2 linked regions of the Homo sapiens genome follow. The protein of the gene in region 1 purifies or fractionates together with the protein of each later gene. This does not show direct contact. Each region holds a gene or a part of one and is shown on either strand. Other genes may lie near its edges. The genes, in order: RNF14 and PNPLA7.

What was found.
Region 2: the proteins of RNF14 (region 1) and PNPLA7 purify together in Homo sapiens (affinity purification with western blotting; one study listed by BioGRID). This does not show direct contact.

The regions. Positions count from the first base shown.
Region 1 is NC_000005.10:141,975,476-141,979,292, forward strand, and holds part of RNF14 (E3 ubiquitin-protein ligase RNF14), read left to right. Parts: intron 1-2,827; coding exon 2,828-3,355; intron 3,356-3,817. UniProt on the Homo sapiens protein: E3 ubiquitin-protein ligase that plays a key role in the RNF14-RNF25 translation quality control pathway, a pathway that takes place when a ribosome has stalled during translation, and which promotes ubiquitination and degradation of translation factors on stalled ribosomes.
Region 2 is NC_000009.12:137,466,856-137,470,672, reverse strand, and holds part of PNPLA7 (patatin-like phospholipase domain-containing protein 7), read left to right. Parts: intron 1-3,199; coding exon 3,200-3,356; intron 3,357-3,817.

The sequences.
Region 1 (3,817 bases):
CATACAAGTAGAAATGTGTATAGTTCCTGTAGATATCTCAGTAAGGCTTGAGGCCTTATGTTAAGCACCTCATTTCCTCTGGGTTATATATACTTTTCTAGTAACAACCTCAACTCTTGATTGAGACATAAATATGGCTTGAAGCTAAATATAAATAATATAAAGCATTCTGGGAGAGATAATGAATCAGCAGCTGCTTTTCTAGAAGTCATAATGAAGATCAATAGACTAATGTGTATTAAGACAAAAGCTCAGCCTGTGCAACATGGCGAAACCCAATTTCTACAAAAAATACAAAAATTAGCCAAGTGTGGTGGTGCGTCCCTGTAATCCCAGATACTTGGGAGGCTGAGGTGGGAGGATCACTTGAGCCTGGGTGGCAGAGATTGCAGTGAGCCAAGACTGAGCCACTGCACTCCAGCCTGGGTGACAGACAGAGACCCTGTCTCAAAAAAAAAAAAAAAAGAAAAAGACAAAAGATGTCAGAGTTGCTGACCTCAAGGAATAGCTCATTAGTTTTTCTCTTTGGATCATACAGTTTTCATTTCCCCATCCACCAATCTAATCTTTTAAGTGAGAGTACTTTCACAAACTAGAGCTTATGGTTTAAAAGCAAAATTAAACCTTAAAAAGGATAACACAGGTAGAATAAAAAGGAGTATTACTTTACATTCTAATGTCTGTGCCAGAGGCAACAGATGCAAGACAGTTGATTTGTCCAGGAATATCAAGACTGTTTGGCATTTAGGCCACTGATAGTTGGCTTAATTATTTAGATCTTCATAGTCCTATTTCACCAGAGAGCTTTTCATACTTTACATCCACGCATGTGCGTGCATGCACGTGCATGCACACACACGCACAAAACAGGGACAGATTAACTGGATGCGTGGTTGTGGTTTCAGATTCCAGCCAACCAGCATCTACTTAATGCTGGATTTGGGGGCGGAGGTGTGTGCTGGGGAAGAGAGTTGTTTTATGTGTTACAGCTAAAATTACAGTAGAATTCTTAATCAAATAAATGTTTATGCATATAATTAACATTTTAATTGGTCTCTTATATTCCTTCTTGGTTCAGTTCTTGTTTGTTGCTGTACCCTGATTCCTTGGCATTATGACTCTCACCTGTTAATGGTGAAATTGACACATAGAGCTGTCATTCCCTGAATTGGGGCGGGTAGACAGAGGGAAGTGGTTTTAGTTTTCTAAAACCTTATTCCTTATTCCTCCCCCAATATACTTACACAGTCTCTTTCCCGTCCCCCTTCCATTTACATGCATTCCAGCTGCCTTTCTCTCTCTTTTTTTTTTTTTTTTTTTTTTTTTTTTTTGAGATGGAGTCTTGCTCTGTCACCCAGGCTGGAGCACAGGGGCACAATCTCAGCTCACTACAACCTCTGCCTAGTGGGTTCAAGTGGTTGTCCTGCCTCAGCCTCCCAAGTAGCTGGGAATACAGGCGCCCGCCACCACACCTGGCTAATTTTTTGTATTTTTTAGTAGAGACAGGGTTTCACCATGTTGGCCAGGCTGATCACCAACCCCTGACCTCAGGTGATCCACCCGCCTTGGCCTCCCAGAGTTCTGGGATTACAGGCATGAGCCACCACGCCCAGCCCCAGCTGCCTCTCTTGAGAAGGGACTGGGGTAGAAAAGAGGTTGGAGAATGGCTTCTTCATAGGACTTGGTAGCTCACACAGCACTCATAGCTTCCCTTTTAGTATTTATCACATTTTACAGATGTTAGCAGATTTCTCAAAAGCATGGTTGATTTATAAGGATATTTATGCAAATGTGAAAAATCATTAGTTGTTCAATCTTAACTCATCAATAAGTATTTAAGGTAGTACCTATGCAGGGTTTAGTCAGTGGCACTACACAGAGTGTAAGAAACAGAAAATCTGGTCCCTTTTCATTTGTCATTTAAATTTACAAAATTTGTTTGCCATCTGGAAGGCATATTTTTGGATGTTTACCTAAAAAAGAAAAGCTGCTTATAATTCCTGTGCTCTAGTTAAAAATATTTTATATTTCTAATGGAAAATTCTCCAACATTTGCCTTTCAAATTGAACAGACCACTTTTAAAGAGGAAAATTCCAAATAATTTAATTTTGGTTGCTTAGCTTAGGAAGTGTAAGCTTTCTCTATGGCTGCCAAACCTTGCTGAGGGCTTGTGATTAGGACCAGGGTCAATATCAGGCAGCTTCCCTCCATTAACCAGGATCTGATATAAGCCCAGATTGCTTACTTAAAAGCAGCTTGTAAATCTGAACAAGGACTCTGAGGTTGAATTCTGTTAGTGATTGTTTCAGATGAGTTGACTTTTTGATAAAACTGAAAGAATTAATTTTAAAACTTGGATAGTATTTTTAAACTATTCTTTTTCTAACCATTATTCTAGGATACGAACAGGGCTAGGACTCCTAATGGAAGAAAAATAGTTTATTTTTAGAACTAGATCTCTTTGTCCTACATGAGGTATATGGCAGTACTAAAAGATTAAAGAACAGAAAAAAGTCTTCCATTTCAGTGGCTAAAATGTACAGCTATTTCTCTACCTTACGGAGTCTTGCTATTTCTCTTCTTCTCGTGGTACTTCTTGCTTCTGACTTTATGTTCTACTCTGGCTCATGTTGCCGAATAGTTTAAGAAGTGCTCCAGTAAGAATGTTTGTACTGTTTTGTATGTAGCACAGTGTATCACAGCAGTAAAAAATAGTGTTAGAATAAGGGCCTAACTTGCAAGTGGAAAAGATTTCTAGGGAAACCAGGAGTTGGCAGCAGCATCATCTTTCCAAACTCACCAACATCTTCATGTGTTTTCTCCTAGCTATCTGCTCTATGCAAGCACTTAGACAACCTATGGGAAGAACACCGTGGCAGCGTGGTCCTGTTTGCCTGGATGCAATTTCTTAAGGAAGAGACCCTAGCATACTTGAATATTGTCTCTCCTTTTGAGCTCAAGATTGGTTCTCAGAAAAAAGTGCAGAGAAGGACAGCTCAAGCTTCTCCCAACACAGAGCTAGATTTTGGAGGAGCTGCTGGATCTGATGTAGACCAAGAGGAAATTGTGGATGAGAGAGCAGTGCAGGATGTGGAATCACTGTCAAATCTGATCCAGGAAATCTTGGACTTTGATCAAGCTCAGCAGATAAAATGCTTTAATAGTAAATTGTTCCTGTGCAGTATCTGTTTCTGTGAGAAGCTGGGTAGTGAATGCATGTACTTCTTGGAGTGCAGGCATGTGTACTGCAAAGCCTGTCTGAAGGACTACTTTGAAATCCAGATCAGAGATGGCCAGGTTCAATGCCTCAACTGCCCAGAACCAAAGTGCCCTTCGGTGGCCACTCCTGGTCAGGTAACTGTTTACCCTGCTGATGGTTGCCTCCTAATTCTCTTCCATAAATGGAGATATCATCTCAGGAACTTCCTTGATAGGGCTCATGGGGCAGTCCGAGGCCTTGGAGCCAGCCCACAAGTTGTTTTGCTGTATCCATTAAAAATGCTATGGTCTTAGTCTACTGCTTAAGCAAATGGAATGCTTCCTTTGGCCTTGCAGTGGGCAAGGATGAGTGTTAAAGTAGTTATTAAGTAATTGTGATAATTTACTTTGTATATCTGCTAGTAGGATCCCATAAACCTTGGGGAATCACTAGCTTATTCTTGTGTGAGGTTGGCATCTGAAGGGGACGTCTCTTAGAATGATTAACCAACTTTTTTATAGACTTCAGCAGAAGTACAGCCTACTTAGGTGGTGGTGGTGTTGTTGTTGTTGTTGTTGTTGTTGTTTTGTTTGAGATGGAGTCTTGCTGTGTCACCC
Region 2 (3,817 bases), on another chromosome or scaffold:
TGTCTTTACCGGGTTTGGTATGAAGGTTTGTTTGTTGGCTTCATAAGCTTAAGTGGGAAGTTCATCTTCTTTTCCTATTCTCTAGAAGGTTTTTAAAAAATTTTTATTTTTACTTTTTTATTTTTATTTATTTTCTTTGAGACAGTGTCTCATTCTGTTGCCCAGGCTGGAGTGCAGTGGTGTGATCACAGCTCGCTGCTGGGATTACAAGTGTGAGCCGCTGCGCTCAGCCAGAAATGGAATCTGTAACTTTTAAATCCCCACAAAGAAAGTTTCATATCCAGATGGTTTCACTGGTGAATTTTATGAAACGTATAAGGAATAAATAAAACAAATTTTACATAAAACCTTCCAAGAGGCCAGGCGCGGTGCCTCACACCTGTAATCCCAGCACTTTGGGAGGCCAAGGAGGGAGGATTTCTTGAGCCCGAGAGTTCCAGACCAGCCTGGGCAACATAGTGAGACCCCATCTTTATAAAAAATGAAAAGATTAGCTGGGTGTGATATGGTCGTAGCTACTTGGGAGGCGGAGGCAGGAGGGGGATCACTTGAGCCCAGGAGGTTGAGGCTGCAGTGAGCTGTGATCACACCGCTGCACTCCAGCCTGGGTGAGAGCTAGACCCTGTCTAAAAATAAAAATAAAAAATAAATAGATTAAATTTATTTAATCTTTACTGAGTTACAGTACTACTCATATGTTCTATTTCTTATGTTATTTTGGTGAGTTAGGTTTTTCTAAAAATGTGCCCATTTTATCTGAATTTTTCTATTTATGGCATGAAGCTGTTCAGTATTTTAAACTAAAGCATCTGCACCAATGTTCCCATTTTCTTTCCTGTTCATCATTGATGCTTTCTCTCTTTCATTTCCTTGATCGGCTTCACCCGGGCTGTCCGTCGAATTGGTCCCTCCAACACCAACTTTCATCTTTGTCAATCTTCTCTATGTTTGTTTTTGGCTCTTTAAGTTATGCTCTTATCTTTGTTATTTGCTTAATTTTACTCTTTTATTTAAGTTGTTCTTTTTTCCCTAACATTTAGACGAGCAGACATTGTCTATAAAGAAACAGATAGTAAATATATACTCTCTCACAACCACTCAGAGGATAGAAAAGTTAAGGTAACGCATCTTTTATTTTCTCAGGCTCGCTTAAAGGTTTTTTCTTTCCTTGGGTTTTTGACAACATGAGAATGGTTTTCTTTTGATTTATGTTAGGATTTATCATGCTTCCTGATTCTGAGGCCTGATGTCTGTCTGTAGAACATGCCACACTGTCTCTTCAGATACAGCTCCCTCCCTGTCTGCTTTCTGTGGCTCTGATCACACATACATTAGAGTTTGGTGCCAGATCCCATGTTTCCTAAACTCCCTTACAGATTTTGTAAAACAATATTGTTACATATTCTGTCCTCTTGATGCTTCATGATTCAGTGACTGTTTCTGACCCATCTTGTATTTTACCATTTCTCTCTTCAGCTGTTCTGTTCTGCCGTTAGACCCACTCATTGAGCTTTTCATTTGTTATTATATTTTTCACTTCTAGAATTTTCATTTGGTTTTATGCCAGAATTAACACTCTTGTTTTTAATTCCTTGAACTTGGGTTTTTGTTTTTGTTTTGTTTTTTCTGAGACGGAGTTTTGCTCTTGTTGCCCAGGCTGGAGTGCAATGGTGCGATCTTGGCTCACTGCAACCTCCACCTCCCAACTTGAACTTGTTTTTAAGGCTTATACCTGAGTAATATTCTGTGGCAGTATTACATATGGTTTTTTTTATTATGTTAAAATATACATAACATAAAATTTACCACTTAACCATTTTTGAGTATCCAATTAAGTATTAATATATCATATTAATATAATTAATGATACAATGTTGTTACAATGTCGTGAAATGAACAATTGCCACTGTTCATTTCCAGAACTTTTTTATAGACAGGGTCTCACTCCAGTCCAGGCTGGAGTGCAGTGGTGTGACGTCAGCTCAGTGTAGCCTTTGACGTCTTCCCACCTCAAATCTGCCCCCATGATCCAGTTACCTCCCACCGGGTCCCTCCTCCAACACTGAGGATTAAAATTCAACATGAGATTTCGGTGGGGACAGAGAGCTAAACCACAGCAAATGCCTCCAGGGTCCCCCCCAGCTGTGGCTTGCATCCGAGCTCCCTCCTTAGAGCTGGGTGCTCTTCCCTTGTCTACTTTGTACCCATTCATCAGCTGTTGCCACCTTTTGGCTCCCTGCACACTTTAAGCGTGGTCATTGTAAAAGCCTGTGTCTGTATCTCTTACCTGGGAGGCACTCTGGGCCCACTTTCATTGTCTGTTTTTTCTTTTGGCTATGAGGCCAAAAGGAAAGCCTATATGAGGCTTTTCTTCTCATATGACTGGTAATCTTTGGTTGAGTGGTGGACATTCTGTATGAAAGCAGCAGTAGCAATTAGAGGCCCTGGGTGCCGGCTGCCTGGTCTCGGGGGTGCCCCCTGGTCTCGGGGGTGCTCCCTGGTCTCATGGGTGCTGGTCTACATCCAGCTCATCTGACTCCTGGGGTGCTGCCCCTCAGGATGCTTCCCAGGCTCCTCCCTTCCAGGGCCCCTCAAGTCCAGTTTTCCCACCACCTCTCAGACGCCCTGCTGGAGGCAGCCGTGTTTCCGGGTAGAAGAGGCCAATGCCGGTCAACTCTCAGGACACCTTCCTCCCCATCCCAGCCTCACAGTCCCTCAGTACCTCCAGAAGGAAGGATTTCATTTATTTAATTAATTTATTTATTTATTTATTTTGAGTCAGAGTCTCACTCTGTCTCCCAGGCTGGAGTGCAGTGGTGTGATCTCAGCTCACTGCAACCTCTGTCTCCTGGGTTCAGGTGATTCTCCTGCCTCAGCCTCCCGAGTAGCTGGGATTACAGGCGCGCACCACCACGCCTGGCTAATTTTAGTATTTTTAGTAGAGATGGAATTTTGCCCTGTTGGCCAGGCTGGTCTCGAACTCCTGGCCTCAAGTGATCTGCCCGCCTTGGCCTCCCAAAGTGCTGAGATGACAGGCGTGAGCCCGGAAAGAGGGGTTTTAAACTGCATCTGGAGTCCCTCTCTGCGTCAGCGTCTCTGCCTGTGGAGGAGTTGGGAACTGAGGATGAGCACAAGGCCTCTGCAGGGCGCAGCCTGGGCCTGGTACTCACTCCTTGCTCTGTGTCCCTGGCTGGTGTAGAGGCTGTGCCCAGGTGGGCGTTCTCAAGGCCTTGGCGGAGTGCGGCATCCCTGTGGACATGGTGGGAGGCACGTCCATCGGGGCCTTCGTGGGTGCCCTGTACTCTGAGGAGCGGAACTACAGCCAGATGCGGATCCGGGCCAAGCAGTGGGCCGAGGTAAGCAGGCACCCATCACCCTCACCGGAGCACAGCCCCCAGGTCCTTGCTGGTGCTGGGGGACGCTGGGGCCGTTGGCCTCTGCATGTGGCTCTGCAGGGCCCTGCCCTCGAGGAGGCTACCCCCTGAAGCCTCCCAGTGCAGCTTGTGAGGCAAAGGAGCACCACAGAGAAGGCACAGATGCAGGTTGGTGGTGGGAGGCGGTCTGATCTGTGCCCAGGTCTGAGTTGGTGGAGACGGTGGTGGGAGGTGGTCTGATCTGTGCCCGGGTCTGAGGTGATGGAGACGGTGGTGGGAGGCGGTCTGATCTGTGCACGGGTCTGAGATGGTGGAGACGGTGGTGGGAGGCGGTCTGATCCGTGCCCGGGTCTGAGATGGTGGAGACGGTGGTGGGAGGTGGTCTGATCCGTGCCCGGGTCTGAGTTGGTGGAGACGGTGGTGGGAGGTGGTCTGATCCGTGC